Regions from separate parts of the Homo sapiens genome. Here region 1 is linked to region 2. Evidence: fine-mapped expression QTL. A gene starts in region 2. The other region holds a variant in brackets. All regions are shown on one strand. Distances are from middle to middle. Region 1 overlaps TEX26 (testis expressed 26). Region 2 holds the start of TEX26 (testis expressed 26).

The links. PIP is the estimated chance that this variant, and not a neighbour inherited with it, causes the effect.
Region 1: its variant is the best candidate, but not a certain one, in a credible set for the expression of TEX26 in testis (GTEx, PIP 0.85).

What each region holds. Positions count from the first base shown.
Region 1 is chr13:30,952,915-30,961,251 of GRCh38, reverse strand. It overlaps TEX26 (testis expressed 26), which reads right to left. Exons shown (of 7, transcript NM_152325.3): 4 at 4,223-4,379. Among named protein-coding and RNA genes, the nearest start is that of TEX26-AS2, 21 kb to the left of the region's middle. The variant C/T (reference allele first, on the strand shown) is at 4,380.
Region 2 is chr13:30,929,403-30,937,739 of GRCh38, reverse strand. TEX26 (testis expressed 26) reads right to left here and starts at 5,084. Exons shown (of 7, transcript NM_152325.3): 1 at 4,964-5,084. The coding sequence starts at 5,024. It overlaps TEX26-AS1 (TEX26 antisense RNA 1), which reads left to right and starts at 5,132. Exons shown (of 4, transcript NR_038287.1): 1 at 5,132-6,494; 2 at 6,866-6,939.

The DNA of each region.
Region 1 (8,337 bases), 24 kb before region 2:
CAAAACTGAACCAAAGAAGCTCTGGACTGAGGGACACCAGGCATGGTAAAAGGTGAGTGGAGTGAGATGCTTGATTGAAAAAAAGAGGGGTCAGTGAAAGTCTGCACACCAGCCAGGAAGATCCCAACCCCTTGCTTCTCCACTCCTGCTCTCAGAATGCCAGCAGTCAGAATTACCTCTCTGGAGAGACTGATCCACAAATAATGGCATTTAGGGATTTCCCCCAAGAAAGATAGCTCATCCTCTAATCACCTAAGTCAAGTACCAGCTAACAAGTCCCTTCTTTGTACACAGTTTTTAATTATATTTGATACCTCCTTTGTAGGTTTTTGAGCCTTGGAGTTTAATATTTTGTGTGCACCCACTTTAAGAAAAAGAAGAGTCCACAAAAGTGAAACTTGAGTTTTATTAGCTTTATAATGAATCGGCCTCTGCTCCCTTGCAAATATGGACAATCAAATTTTCATTAGACCATTAAGACACTCAGAGAAAAATGGAAACAATGCAAGAAACAGATGAAAATGCTGAAAGTTAATTATATCATAAATATCTTAAAATTCATGAGAATTACTGCATTATAAAATAAGAGCAGAATGCTGTTTTTAAAAAATAATTGGAGGGAGGAAGAAAGAGAGCTTAGAAATTAAAAATATGAGACCTGTAATAAAATTTAATGAAGAGCTAGATTAAAAAGTAAAGAAGTTTTCAGCCAGGCATGGTGGCTCATATCTGTAATCCTAGCACTTTGGGAGGCTGAGGTGGGTGGATTGCCTGACCTCAGGAGTTCAAGACCAGCCTGGGCAACATGGTGAAATCCTGACTCTACTAAAAATACAAACAAATTAGCCGGACGTGGTGGTGCATGCCTGCAGTCTCAGCTACTCAGGAGGCTAAGGCATGAGAATTGCTTGAATCTGGGAGGCAGAGGCTGCAGTGAGCCAAGATCACACAACTGCACTCCAGCCTGGTGGAGATTCTGTCTCCATGAAAAACAAACAAACAGACAAAACAAAAAAGGTATAGAAGTTTTCAAATAAACAGAACAAAAATACAAAGAGAAAGAAGCTAGGAGAGAAAAGGTAAGATAATTTAAGGCTCGATCCAACTATCCAGTAGCTTCCTAAGAAAGGGTGTGTTGGAGGAACTTTTGAAAGTATATTCTTGTCAATCTGGAAATGTCTTTTTTTCTTCATTAGACTTGCTTGATAGTTTGGCTGGATATAGAATTTTAGGTTGGAAATCACTTCCCTTCAACACATTTTTCCAAATGTCTTCTAGCATCCAGGATTTCTATGTAGAAGACAGATGACATTTTAATTTCTGATCTTTTTTATGTCAACCCCCTGGAAACACTTAAGATCTCTTTATTCCTGACATTCTGAAATTCCACACTTACATGCATTAGTGACAGTCTTTTGTCATTCGTTATGTCAGGCATTCAGGGGCCCTTTCAATCTAGAAACTCTGAGAATTTTTTCCTGCATTACTCCTTTAATATTTTTCTCTCCTCTCTTTTCTCTGTTCTATTCTGTCATTGTGTTTGGAAAAAATTTTGGTAAGTGTACAACAAAGTATGGAAAAAAATAGTGACAGGCATGTAGAAAAGTAAACACGTAGAGAAAAACAATTAATTCTGGTAAAAATAAGAGAAAACAACAAGCAAAGGAAATAATGAAATACAACTTGGCTCAGCAGCAAACATTTACGTACTCATGTAATCACAGTATGTCATATCATAATATATACACTAGCAATTGAATTTAACAAGAAATCTGTAATATAATTATATTGACATGATGGATGGAGGGCCAGTGAGACAGAGTTATAGGATAGCCAAATCCTCAGCTTCCAAAACAGAAGTCAATAACGTCTAAAATTCATGAATGAAGAGGAGCAGTAGAAGCAAATTATTTAAAAATCACATAAGAAGAAATAGTTAACCAGATTGAAATTGACTGCCAATGAGGAATAAGAGTAGGGATGGGGCGGGGTAGGTCAAGGAACTACTGTTGTTTCTTTATATGCCTGTAAGTAATCATTTAAGTATATGCATACATTTGTTTAATAAAAGTAAATTTTAATGTTTAAAAACTGTAAACAAGAAGTTAGGAATTCAGAATACCATGTATAAACTGACTCTTGAAGGAATTTTAGCTGGGAAGGAGGTAGTTCTAATAAGAGAAGCCAGACTGCCTGGGTTCAAATCCTAGACACCACCAGTCCTGAGCTGGGCAACCCTGGGCATGTTGCTTAACCACACTGAGTTTTAGATCCCCCTCTTTGATTGGCGGTAATAACTTCACAGGTTGTGAAAATTAACTGTGTTAATTTATGAAAAGCTAAGGGCTTAGTAAACATTGGCTGTTTATGAAGGGAAGCAGAGAAATGAACAGTAGCTAAAAGAAGAGATGGGGTTGAGGGAAAGCTCTGTTTTTGTTTTCATCTGGAACATGCTAGACGGGATATACTACAGTCAATGTGCATGCCGGTGGGGTGGGATTAATACTTTAGAGATGGAGGGATGATGTTGGAGAAAAGGCCAGAGAACTGGAAAGATAAAGTTCTTGTTCAGGGGACAGGGAGACAGATCCACAGCTCACAGGGATTGATGGTTCTGTTGGGGCAGGAAAAGGGATGTAGGATGAAGATGGAGACACCCAGACCTTGAGAGATGTGTCATTCTCCTGTCCTCGGGTGAACAGGGGCCCTCAGCACTCCCTGGCTTGTGTTCAGAGCCCACAGGGCAGCCAGCCTTCCTCAGCAGTCACTGGGTGTCATTATTTTGTCACCAAAAAGCAGGAGAACACCAATACTCCAACTGCCATTGTGTCACAGGGCTTAGAGCCATGCACCAGCGTGTGTGGCTTTCTCAGTAACTTAGGAAAAGATTTCCGTCTGTGCGTCTAAAAATATAATCAATTTTCATGAATTCTCAATAAAGTAAATTTCCTGCTGATAAGCAAGACCAAAATTGCATTGAATCACCAAATATGTCATTTCTGGAAAATGTGTTGGTATAGATGGAACTCATTTTTGACCCCCTGAGACATGGAAGCTATGATGTCATCTCTACTTACCCTACAAAAAAACAGTCAAAGGTGTTCCCAGCCACAGAGCCCTAAGGGCAGAGCCAGGTGAAGCATGAGAGAATCTAGATTCTCACAGGGGAATCTGCATAGCAGAGTTCCCATCCCAGGACACATGTGCTCTTCCAGGAAGCAGGATGAATAGTGTGCTGGACTTTTCATCTCTAACAAAGGAGAGAATAAAATGGCCCTCACTTCATCCTCTCATGGTTTCCTACTTACCTACAGAAGACACCAGCATCCCATCCACAAGGAACTCCAAGGCAGACTCCTATTACTCCCGTATCTCTGACATCTGTCAGTCACTCATCCCTATCATTCATTTATTTGTTCAACCAATATTTATTTTCATCACCTGTGATAAGCCAGGCACTGGGGTGGGTGCTGGTGAGACAATGTGAGCCAAAAGCCACAGCCCCTACCCTGGAAGGGGCTTATTGCTGACTGAAGTGCCCATGCCACCACCTTGCAGATCCTGCCTCCATCCGCACTGCCACAGCCCTGTGTCAAGCCACCTCACTCCTCTCTGCGCTCCCCTAACAGCCTCCTCCTGTCCACCTTCTTCCTGAAGGGCCATCTCCATTCTTCACTCTGCAGCCAGTGTGAGGCTTCTAAAAGTCGACATCTGAATTGTGTCACTACCTTAATAAAAACCTCTTAATTGCTTCTGGGATGAACTCCAAACTCTTTAGTATGCCCTGTAATGCCCTTCCAGACTGGGTGTTCTCTGCCCACGTTGATCTCCTCCCTCAACCCTCCCTTTGCCCTTGATGCTCTACTCTTGCTGAAGTTCTTTTAGTTCCTGAAATGTTCCTGCAGGTCTTCAATCCTGTAACAACACTCTCCCCTACCTCTTTGCCTGGCTAATTCCTCTTCATCCTTTGGGCCAGGCAGGGAAGCCTTTCCTGACCCCCTATCCCACACTAAGCTGGATGTCTTCCTGTATGCCCACAGCAACCTGCATTTCCCACAAGGTGCACCTTTTTATACTTGATGGTTTTTATTTGCAAAGTCGCCTGTCTCCATGCCTAGACTTCAAGTTCCTTGAAGGAGAAGAACACACGCATGCTGCCGACCACTGCAACTCCAGGGCCTACCACATGACCCAGGAAAAAAAGAAAAACAAAAGTGTTTACCTTTTGATCTGTCCACAAAGTCTCTCTTAGTAAGGGAAATAAACTGATTTGATAGTGCCTTGTTAACTTCTTTCATTGAAGCCGGGATTTTCCAAGGGAGGCAGTTCTTTAGTGTCCCCGTTTGTTGACAGTGAGGTAGTGTCCACAGGAAAATGTC[C/T]TATCAAAGCAAACATAATTTTCAAGAAAATCCATATGGGTTCACCCAATAGGATCAATAATCTGAGTGTCTGTGTGCACATATTCTTCAGAATCCTTTACAACCAGCTGCCACTGCAGGTGCATGGATGCTGGGAGCCCGTCAACAGGAGACATTGGTTGACCCAGTCGAAACGCGGGCTCTGTACATTTCTTTGACTTTTCACATTGAAAATGAGAAAATGAGATTGAAAACTTCAAAGAGTTGTGCTTCCAACCAGAAGTCTCCTACAGATAAGACTAAGGGAAGAAATAACCCATGTTAATTCTAGTTCTGGCCATTCCCAAGGAGCACAGGCAGTAGCTGCTTTCCCCTTGGGAGCCCCTGAGGAAAACTCTGCCTTACATGCAGAGGCCTCAGCAACTTGCTGAAGGACAGGAATGGCCAGCACTCTCTTGTCACCTCCAAATGTCCAACAATGATAGACTGGATTAAGAAAATGTGGCACATATACACCATGGAATACTATGCAGCCATAAAAAATGATGAGTTCATGTCCTTTGTAGGGACATGGATGAAGCTGGAAACCATCATTCTCAGCAAACTATTGCAAGGACAAAAAACCAAACACCGCATGTTCTCACTCATAGGTGGGAATTGAACAATGAGAACACATGGACACAGGAAGGGGAACATCACACACCGGGGCCTGTTGTGGGGTGGGGGGAGGGGGGAGGGATAGCATTAGGATATATACCTAATGCTAAATGACTAGTTAATGGGTGCAGCACACCAACATGGCACATGTATACATATGTAACAAACTTGCACGTTGTGCACATGTACCCTAAAACTTAAAGTATAATAATAATAAAATTAAAAAAGAGAGATTTTAGGATGATAAAACTTGAAATCTTCACCCCCTCTTGCCATCGTCCCTCTTTCCCATGATCTTGCTTCCTATTTCCCTGAGAAAATTGAAGCCACCAGAAAATAACCTCCACAGCCCACCAACCGTGTCCCAGCCACCGCACCTGCACTCACACATGCTGTGACGGGAGGGGAGCCGCGCAGGTGCCCTCAGCAAGGCCCAGCCCCGCCTGCAGCACTAGATCCCTCTCTACTGAGTCTACTCCAGCAAATCGCTCCAACAGTCCTTACTTCTCTCTTGCAACTTGAATCTCTTCCTCTCTGCTGGATCATTGCCATCTGTATCAAAGAATGCGTTTATTTCTCCTATCTTAAAAAGAAAGCACTCTCTTCACTGTACTTCCCCTTCTAGTTACTAAGCTATTCCTCAGTTTCCCTTTGCACCAAAATTCTTCAAAATAGTTAGGTATACTCGCTGTCCCAAACTTGCCTTTTAAACCTCTTTTAATTTTCAAGTTCTCTCTTGATTCCCTTCTTTCCCTCACAATCTATCAACTGGAAAAACCAATACATAAAATTATGATTTATCTATTGAAGAAGCCATTTGCTGTGCAGAGGTCCCAAAGTCTGGATTTTGTTGATTGCGTATGCATTTGTTGTTTAACAAGTTCCTCTGTCCCCTGTATTTCCTGCAAATTGGCAGGTGTATCCAGAGACTCAAATTCACTAAACTAGAAGTCAAGCTTGTCCAACCTGTGGCCCCACCCAGGATGGCTTTGAATGTGGCCCAACACAAATTCATAAACTTATTTAAAACATTATGAGATATTTTTGCGATTTCATTTTTTAAAGCTCATCAGCTATCATTAGTGTTAGTGTATTTTATGTGTGGCCCAAAGCAATTCTTCTTCCACTGTGGCCCAGGGAAGCCAAAAGATTAGACACCCCTGAATAAATGGTGTTTCACAAGGCTGTAGGAGGCAGATAATACATCGTTGTTTTTCTTGTGTAACGTTAGCAGTTGTTGATATTCAATACCTAGAATAATAGGAGCTGCCATCTGGCATGTGAACACTCATTGGCTGAGAACACGCAGGACAGTCAGCCACACTAGCTCTCATTGGTTGAGAGCCTTCAATAGTACTTAGAGGAAGGGAAAATTATATGGTCGTGTGTTTGTGAATGTATAAATACAGTATAATATTGTATACATACAGTATAATATTGTAATCAACTCTTCTACATTAATTTTAAAATATAAAGGATGACCAAGCATAGTGTCTCACGGCTGTAATCCCAGGGCTTTGGAAGGCCAGGGTGAAAGGATTGCTTGAACCCAGGAGTTTGAGACCAGCCTGGGAAACAGAGTGAGATTCTATCTCTACAAAAAATAAAAAATTAGCTGGGCATGGTGGCATGCACCTGTACTTTAAGCTACTCTGGAGGGTGAGGTGGGAGCATCACTTGAGTTCAAGAGTTCGAGGCTGTAGTGACCTCTGATTGATTGTGCCACTGCACTTCACCCTGGGCCACAAAGCAAGATCTTGTCTGTAATATATCTAATTATACATAATAATACATATGTTAGAGACATATTTTTATATTATATATAAATTATATATTAAATATATAATTTAGATATATATATTTTTAGAGACAGGAGTTTTATGTGTATATCTCCAAGAGATATATACATACATATATGTGTGTGTGTGTGTGTGTGTGTGTGTGTGTGTGTGTGTGTGTATAGGTCTATAAATATATATATTTTTTTTCAGGGTTGAATACATTACAATGAATGGATATCACAAGGAACCAAATTTAATCAGCTATATGTATACATTCTAATGACTTCCAAGTCCATATGTCCAGCTCATCTCTCCCCCAAGAGCTCCAGACCTGTCTATTAAACTGCCTGTTGGACACATCTTCAACCAACATGTCTTCAACTGAAACTACATGTTCCCCCAATGCCCTTCTCCACCCAACCTGGTCCTCCACCATGTTCCAGCTGAGTAAACAGAATCTGCATACACCAGCTGTCCAAGTCAGAAGTTGAACATTATACTTTCCTCTTCCTTATCCTTTGCATCCTTTTAGTCATCAAATCCTGTTCATTCTACCACTTTATCATCTATTGAATGCATCAAGGTGGCTCCATCCCAGGTTGTCCCATCCCATGTGGCAGTCAAGCAAATGAAACCCTTTACTACAACAAAGCATTACCTTTTGTGATGGGAGAAGGGAATAGAAAGACAAGAAAACACACACGGAGAATCAGCTATTTCCACCCAGGGGAGAAGGAACTTAGAGATGGCTTTCTTTAATGTGAGTCTTGAAGAAATATAGGAGTTCCCTTCATGCACAGGATAAGGGCATTCTAGGTAGAGGCAACAGAATGATTTAAAAAATGGAGGTTTGAGAGCGTATGAAACACAAGGCTAAGCACAAGTACTTGTACATGGCTGTTCATAGCTGCACAATTCACAATAGCCAAAAGGTGGAAACAATCCAAAGATGCATTAATGGATGCACACACAGACAAACTGTGGTTTATCCGCGGAAGAGAATATTATTCAACTGTGACAAAGACTGGAAGTACTGATATTTGCTACACGGATGCTACATGGGTAGTCTTCATAATAGTGCTTTTCCTGTCTTCTTTCTAGTCAGATAATTTCTTAGATGATGAACCTTGAAAACATTATGCTAAGTGAAAAGAAGCCAGACACAAAAGGTCACCTATTATTGATTCCACATGTAAAATATCCACAAAAGGTAATCCACGGACATAGAAAGCAGACGGTGGGGAGTGGAGTCGGGGGTAATTGCTTAATGGGTATGAGGTCTCCTTCTAGGATGATGAAAATGGTTTGGAACAAAAATAAAGGTGATGGCTGTCCAACAGCATGTATGTACTAAATGCCAGTGAATTGTTCACTTTAAAAGGTTAATTTTATATTACGTAAATTTCACTTCAATTTTTAAAAAGTCCTTTTTTAAAAAAAACTCCAGGGGATAGAACACAAGAGGTTAGAAATAAATGTGAGAAGGTAGACAGGAAATAGTCTAAAAAGAACCATGTATCCTGTGACTGTAGAAGCTGAGA
Region 2 (8,337 bases):
TGTATTCCCCACTCTGTAACTGTGCTTCTATGCACTCCTAGTGTCTGCTCTCTAATCCTGCTCTACAAGAAATGACATCATTCTCCAATACTCCTTCTTTAGTGGGCATCGCTTTATGCTTGAAAGCATTTTATCCCAATAGCAGAATTCAATGTTCTTTGTTAAAAGAATTACAAGTATGAACAAGTAAAAGGGAAGAAATTGTGAGGCATGCCACTCGTAAAAGAAGCCTTCTCTAACCTGATTTGAACTTCGGCATTGGACTTTCGGAACAATCAGGAAGGATATTCTGCACAAAAGCCACACATAAATTTTCCCTGTTTTTTCTAAGGCAAACAACTCTAACAGTCCAGATCACATTTCTATTAGGCTCAGATATGCCTCAAAAAGCCTGGCAGAACAGCACTCCAGGCAGCACCTCCCAATCAATCATGTGGGCAAGCACGACACGCCCCTCTGTGTTCCCGCCCATCTAGGGTCCTATCCCTTCTGAAGATAGTTTGGCAGCTGGGGTCACCAATTGCCAGGTGCCTGGATCAGGAGTCTGACGGACAAGAGCAGCATGCCTTACTGTTTCCAGGAACTGAGGCCATGAGAGCCTCCCTCTTCCATTGTTACCTTTGTACAGATCAGGCACACCCTCCACTCCCTAATCCTAACCTGCTTGGATGCACACTTGATCTTTGGTACATCTTCCTTTAATTTCATGTTAATGATTTCCCTTACTACAACTCTTTTTGTAAGGGCTGTATTTCTATGCTTTTTACCTCCATTGACAAAGCTTCTGAAAGTACAGTATGCCATTGGAATTAATTTTCTTCATTAACAGAAATGTTCATTGAGAAATCTGTAATCACAATATTCTGAAAATCTGTTCCTAGTATGTTCTCTGCAAGTCACTACTTTCTTCTCAGTATCTCAATGTCCTTTTGTGTAGCTCATATCCATCTTTCCTGTGATTACGTCTTCCTAATTCTTTCTTCTCTCATTTTCTGTTCCTCCTTCAAAGAAGTCCCCAAGCCCTCCCGTGGACCCAGCCCTGTGGAGCACTGGGACACAGAGTCTTGACCTGGCCTTGGAGAACTCACAGGCCAAGAGATGAGCTATGTATCCTATGAGCACAAGTTTAATGTGGTGCTGATGTCCTATGTGTCACAGGGAACATGAAGAGGGTGCAATTCTTTTTGCTTGGATGAGAAGATGCGGCAGCAAGGGCAGGCCCAGGGGTCATCATAGCATAGGTGGCATCTGAGCTGTGATTTAATTTAGTAGATGTTTGAAAGAGAAGCACAGGACATGAAGTAAAACAATTTACAGAGGAAGTAGCATGAGGTATGAGAGTCTGAGATGAGACACAACAAATAGCCCCATGTGAATGGAGCAAAGGGAAAGATGGCTAATGACAGGTCAGCAAAGCATCCTAAAGCCTCATTCTGCTAACCTTGACAATCCACTGGATGTGTTCACCATTAGGAAAATATAAAGCTTAAAAAATATTATAAAGTAGTAACATGTATATTCTATTATACTTTACAAAATATTTTCACATATATTATTTTATTCCCTCACTTTGTTTTGAGGATTCAAGGTATTGATATATGTAAGTTGCTTGTAGTGTGCCACATGGTGACACTACAAAAAAGATATTTCCATGTCCTAATCCCCAAAACCTGTGAATCTTACTTTATTGGGAAAAGGGGTCTTTGCACACGCAATTAAAGATTTCGAGATTAGGAAATCATCCTGGATTATCCTCGTGTACCCTAAATGCAATTACAAGTGTGCTTATAAGACAGAGACAGAGACCTGGAGTAATGAGGCCACAAGCTAGCATTACAGGATCTCTGGGGTGTTGATTTTTCTGGCTGGAAAACTCTGTGGCTGCAGTGCCTTTGCCAGAGTTTTTGTCCCGCATTGAGGTACACAGACAAGTGAAGAGTGAAGAAGAGTTTTAGTGTTAGAACAGCTCGGAGGAGTGGGTAGCTTCTCTCTGTAGGCAGGTCATCCGGTCAAGTGTTCAGCTGTCAGTAGAGAGGAGGCCCTAGGCAGCGTAGCTCCTCTCCATAGGCAAGTCATTCAGAGATCTCTGCAGGTCTCTGAAGCTCTCAGCAGAGAGCGTAGCTCCTGTCTGTCGGCAGTCGAGAGGGTACTCCTTCCTTTCTGCAGCTAGTTGCCCCATCATCTCCAGCTATCAGCAGAGAGCATACTCCTCTACAGCGGGGGGTTCCCTTGTCTCTCCCTGCCCTCTTCATTCTCTGGCTGCTGTCCTCTTCCCTGCTCTGGCTGAGCCCAGGGTTTTTATGGACTTCAGAGGGAAGGAAGTGCATGCTGATTGGTCCATGGGTGGCCATGCGCAGGCTGGAGGAGGCAGCATGAGTCCCCACTCAGATTCCTGACTGGCAGCCTGGTCCCCAGACTTCAGGCCCTCCCTGGTCAGAGGGTGGGGCCTTACTGGGGACCCCAGCCCCTTCCACCCAGGACTCTGTCTGCCTCCTGCTGCCATTCACAGCCCTGGGGCTTGGTCCCAACCCCACTCTGAGATCAGAGCCAGTGGAGAGAGGCCAGGCAGTGGGAGCAGATACCCTTTAGCCTGCAGGGATGTGGGTGGGGTATTGCCTGGCAGTGGGATCAGATACCCCTGAGCCTGCAGGGATGGATGGGTGAAGGGTGTCCTTCCTGGGGAGTCCAAGGGTGCAGGCTGCAGAGATGCCCAGGTCCTGTGCCTGGGAGGGCAGCTGCAGCTGCACCAGGGAGCTCTTGCCCCACCAACTTGGAAGAGGCAAAGCTCCCACTTGTCCCTGGCTCCTGCCTGCTTCATGGAGTGAAAGGCCCAGGTCTGCAGCCGTGGGTTCCACAGGGAGGCTCAGAGGCACAGGGAGGCTCAGACCCACAGCCGCAGTTTGGGTGGCTGTAGCCTCGCCCAGGACTGCAGGGCTCCTGCTTGCTCCATAGAGCAGGAGGCCTGGGTCTGTAGCTGCAGTTTGGGCGGCTGTAGCGGCACAGGGAGCTCCCATCCCAACTCAGAAGGGGCAGCTCCCACGGGCTCCATGGAGTGTTGCAGCCCCAGCTGTGCTTCCCTGCTGCAGCCAGCATGATGGCAGCAGCCACTGCCATCACTAGCAGTGCCGATGGCTACCTGAAGCTGGAAGACGTAAGGACCACTTCTCCCCTAGGGCCTGTAGAGGGAGTGCAGACTTGTCCAGACCTTGATTTCAGGCTCTCGACCTTCAGAGCTGTGAGCAAATACATTTTTGTTGTTTGAATCCACCAGTCTGTGGGAACACATAGCAGCCACAGGAAACTAATACAACACCTGAGAGCCCCATCTGTAGTAATTATTCAATAACAGTTAGTCATCAGTCACCATCAACCTCATCCTATTTCGGACCAAACCTGGGCAGTGGGGACACATCAAGCCTACCATTTGGAGGGTGACTCTCCCAGCAGTGGGGAATGAAGTGGCACAGAGTAGCCATTAGAGGCCCAAGCCTGGAGGTAAAGGGGCGAATTCACCTGGGGGAAAAAGAGCTTTGGAGGCAGAATCAAAGAGACCTGGTGATCAAACTGCAGTCTCAAGGAAGCTGCCTTCCCTTCTAAATTGAGCAGCTAGGACCCTCTTAACTGAACTCTCAAAGTCTGGAAGGTTTGAGGAGGACAAGGAGTGTGATTTTGCACATGTCAAGTTGGAGGCCCTGCTGTGACACCCACATGGAACTGTCTGGTAGACAGTTAGATATTCTGGTCTGAAAAAGTAGGAAGAAAGTCCAAGTCAGAGATAAAGGTTAGAGAGTTGTTGGCACCTTTATGCAGCACTTGAAGCCCTGTGCAGGATATGGTCACAAAGAGAAGGTAAGCCTAGAAGGATCAATCCTGGGGGACTCCAACAGTTCCCAGACAAGAAGGGGATGAAATGGGGAGACAGTGGGAAAACAGGGTGGTTAGAAAGGGAAGAGAAGCATCCAAAGGGGTGCTGTCGGGATGCTAGGAGGGGATCCTCCCTCCTCTGTCTCTCCTGTTTGCCTTCCCATCATATAGAAACTGAGTGTATTAGATATTTTCTGCACTAATTAAGTATTTTCATTTTCCATTCTTAATTTACAACGGAATGAATTGGAATGAAAATATGCATTTCATTCACTCTTTTGGGAGCACAATTCTAGGGAATTTGTACTTGAACAATCCTTCACTGCTCCATAGCCACTGTGGAATCACAGTTACCCAACTATACAGCAGCAATGGCCAATTATTGCCACAAGAGACTATGATGGAGCTGACTACACGGTAATCATGCCACTAGCGTCACAGCTAGAGTGGTTCTCCCTCCACAGACCCAAAAGGCTGAACTGGTGAACCTGCTGCATCTGTGGGCAGAATTAGGATGAAAAGCACTACCTCTGTGAAATACAAAATCTCTGTGGAAGAAAAATCAATTCAGGTTAGAGGCGGCAGCTGAAGGCCATGGCTCCCAGCCTGGTGCGACAGCCCAGGGAGGGCGTCTGCCTCTGCAGACACAGCTGGGACTCCATTCAGCAGCCAACCCTTCCCCCACTTTCCTTGCTGTTTCCAAGATCCTATATGGGGATCGGGACTCAGGCAGGACCTGTTCTCTTCAGAGCTTCCAGGACTTCTCTTTCTTCTTTGCCTTTGGCCCTGTTTTCCTTGGAAAATCACCAGTTCTTCCTTTTTTCCTGTCCCCTCTTAGCCAGGCACTTCCTCGAGTGTTTAAAAACCCTGCGCGTTTTAGGGAGCGGGGATTTGGCAAAGGTTATGCGAAGGACTGAAAAGGGGCAGCGTCATGAAGGCCCTGTCATTCTCCCTGACTCCCCGTCTTTTCCTCAGTTGAGCATACTCCTAAGAGCGATGCCACACCCTTAAATACTAAGGCCCCTTTTTCTCAACAGGACCCTTTCCCCGGGAAAGACCCCAGCCCCGCCCCGCAGACCGGCAGAGTCTGCTGTCTTACTTGGCTGGAGGTTGTGGTGGCAGAGAGAGGGATCCGGAGCCCTGGGCCCAGGCTGTTCCATTCTGCCCCAGGAGGCGGCCGCGGGGCCCTGGCTCCAGCTATCTCAGCGCTTGCGGGAGCCGCGGGCTGCTTTGTGACGCGTCGCCATGGAGACAAGGATCGGGTTCCAGGGAGTTCTGCCCCTGCCAAGGGGTGCTGGCCACGCAGGAGGCTTAACCTGGCCGGCGCGGGAATGGGGTGCAGAGAGCAAAGAAATGTGGCTTTGATCTTATGGATGCCTTACTTTTACATTATTTGTACAGTTCTTGCAGTGAGCTTTCCGGACCACTGTCTTGTATGTTTCCTAAGAAAAGCAAAAAGGGAAGAGATTGAAGAGAAAGTAGATTTTCAACTACAAACTTTCATCCATTTGCTTTCAGCTTAAGCAAATGTGCGCAAAGTTGTCATGGATTTTTGCAGTCAATAAAAACCAAGCAAGAAGACTGAATCCCAAGTCATCTGGTATAAATGGAAGCAGTTTCTGTGATAGTTCCACGCGGTCAGAAGGGTCATCCTGGCTTAGGAGAGGGGCAGAAGAGGAAATGCACGCGTGGAAACAGGAGTGGGCAGGGAGGATGTGACACTGTCCTCCTCACCAGGCCACGTTCCTGGCACCAACCATAGTGTTTGTGAGGGTCAATTTAATTGTTCTTGTGCTCTCATAGAGGAAGCTGTGTCTTTCATCCCCTTGTAAGAGTTTTCACTGATGAAGGGGGTCTTTTATCTTCATATCTTGGGAACTACTGAAACTGTTTCAAAGAGTCAAAGACACCAATAACTAACAGAAATTCTTGTTTTCAGGGGCAGATAAGAAAAGAAACAATTTGCTGAAACTCCCTCTGCTTATAACAAAACTGACTGAAATCAGCCGGAATCAATATGGCCAAATGCAGTTTGCGCACAGCAAGCTTGCTGATGTCACAGCCTGAATTTCTACTGCATGTTTCATACCAACTCCCTCCAAATTTGCACATGGGACCCACCAGGAAGCATGAAGAGAGAGCCATGCATGCCTGAAGACTTCCCAGATGTTCCCTTTGCTTCCACCAATCACCTGCTAACCCCAGGATCCAACCCTAAACCTTTTGTAATAAAATTACTGCCCTAAAGCCAGTACAAGACAGATTTGAACTGGACTTTTGTTTCCTCAGAAGTTAACTTGCAATGTGAAGCTTTCCTTTTCTCAAAAACTTGGTGTCATAGTGTTGGCTTCTAGTGCAGTGAGCCCCTTTTGCTGGATAACCTTACCTGGTAATTTGACATACTAGGTGGTTAGTAACTACTGACTGTCTCCAGGTTACAACACAGTTATTACCCACTTGGGTGAAAAGAGAAGACAGGAAATACATTTTGGAGTTGGCTGGCAACCTGTTTACAAAGCAATTTACAACAGTTCCTTATTCTTAAGGGGCTATTCTAATACAAGACCTCAGAGAAACAGTGCAGTGTGACAAAGGAGGAATTTATCAAAGGAGACAGAAAAAGCATCAAGGTAAGGATCCCAAATATATGTGCAAGGAATGTCTTTAAAATGAAGAGCTAAACTAGAATTTCCTGAAGGTAGAGTTCTATCCATATAATGGAATGAATATAACACATTATAAACTCTCATGTTTTGAAGCAATGGAGGGTGGAACACATTAGAAGGCATAGATGTTATTAAAAGGAATGAGTCTAAATTAGGATTTAGTAGTGGCATCTAAATTTAAAAAGTAGCACCCAATAACAGATTACTGTCTGGAAATGGTAGAGCTAATTAGCATAGCATAATTTAAGAGAAATATATGTTTAAAATAGAGCAGCAAGTATATAGAATTTTGAAAGTGAATTCTTATTAATATCTTACAATTTGTCTCATTTTAGGCAAGCTGTGAAATGGTGCGGTAGGAACCAAATAGAGAGCCAAAGGATCTTTCTGTCACTGCAGGCCCTTAGGGGTAAGCAAATCCTTCCCTGATCCCTGGTCTCCTTATCTGTAAATGAGAATACCAGCACCCACCTCACTGTGCTGTAAACATGATGAGTTCTAACAATAATTTATAAATTGTAAAATCACACAAATCTAAGATATTGCTCTTGTTGCTATTCTGATCTTCATTCCTTTTATAGTCTTTCTACTTCAAAGTGTATTTTTGCGTGGGTCCATTTTATGGCTAGCGGTATAGCACTATTCCTGCCTTTGAATTCTGGTTGCCTGAGGCAACCCTTCTAAATGATTAAGTAGAGTATTTCCCCCCTGCTTTCTTCTCTCCCTCAACAAATACTGACTGTGCACTGAATATGAGCTGTATGATGGCATCGGGGCAACACCCTGATTATTATAGTGAACAACTTCCTAGAAAAGGAGGTGCCTGAGCTGGGTCCTCAAGGATGCTTGGAGTCAACCAGGTGAATAGGGGGAGGTGACAGGTGACACAAAGTAACGCAAGGGCCCAGAGGCATGGAACACTGTGTGTAGTCCCAAGACCTTTAGTAGTTTAATATTGCCATATTGTAAAGTGTGTCAGGGGAAACTGAGAGCCGGCTGGGGTGGAAGGCCCTGCAGGCCATCCTGAGAAGCTTGGACTTCACCTGAGCATGCTTGGGTTAAACAATGCAGTGCAGGGGCCAGGTTGGAAGTTTAAGTAAATCCTGGCCTCTCATTCCAGAAGGAGGAGAGGCAAAATTCCACAACATTCTGCCAGAGTAAGTTAATCATTCAGAAATTAAAGCATCTAGGTTACTAATTTAGGTTACTGATATCTCTTTAGCAGAGTTTCAAATTGATCCAAAACAATTGAGAATAGTTGTATTGAATGGGTTAAATGTTAATTGGTTGTTTTCAGTTGAAGTGATTACAGCCAAGCGAGGTGGCTCATGCTTGTAATCCCAATACTTTGGGAGTCCAAGGCAAGAGGATCCTTTGAGCCTAGAAGTTTGAGACAAGCCTGGACAACATAGGGAGACCCCGTTTCTACAAAAAATGAAAAAATTAGGCAAGGTGATGCATATGTGTAGTCCCAGCTACTTGGGAAGCTGAGGTGGGAGGATCAATTAAGCCCATGAGTTTGAGGCTGCAGTGAGCTGTAGTGGTGCCACTGCACTCCAGCCTGGGTGACAAGAGAAAAACCCCATCTCCAAAAACAAAAAACAAAAAATTTGTGACAATTTATTTTTGCATGCACACACGCACCTGCGCATGCAGGTCCGTGCATGTGCGCGCACACACACACAAACACACACATAGAGAACATGATGTGAAGTAGTAAAGACTGGGATGGGTGGTAAGGGTGAAGAGATAGCAAATATAGAACACTCAGGTTTGAACTATAACAGAGAAGAAAACCTCTAGCCAG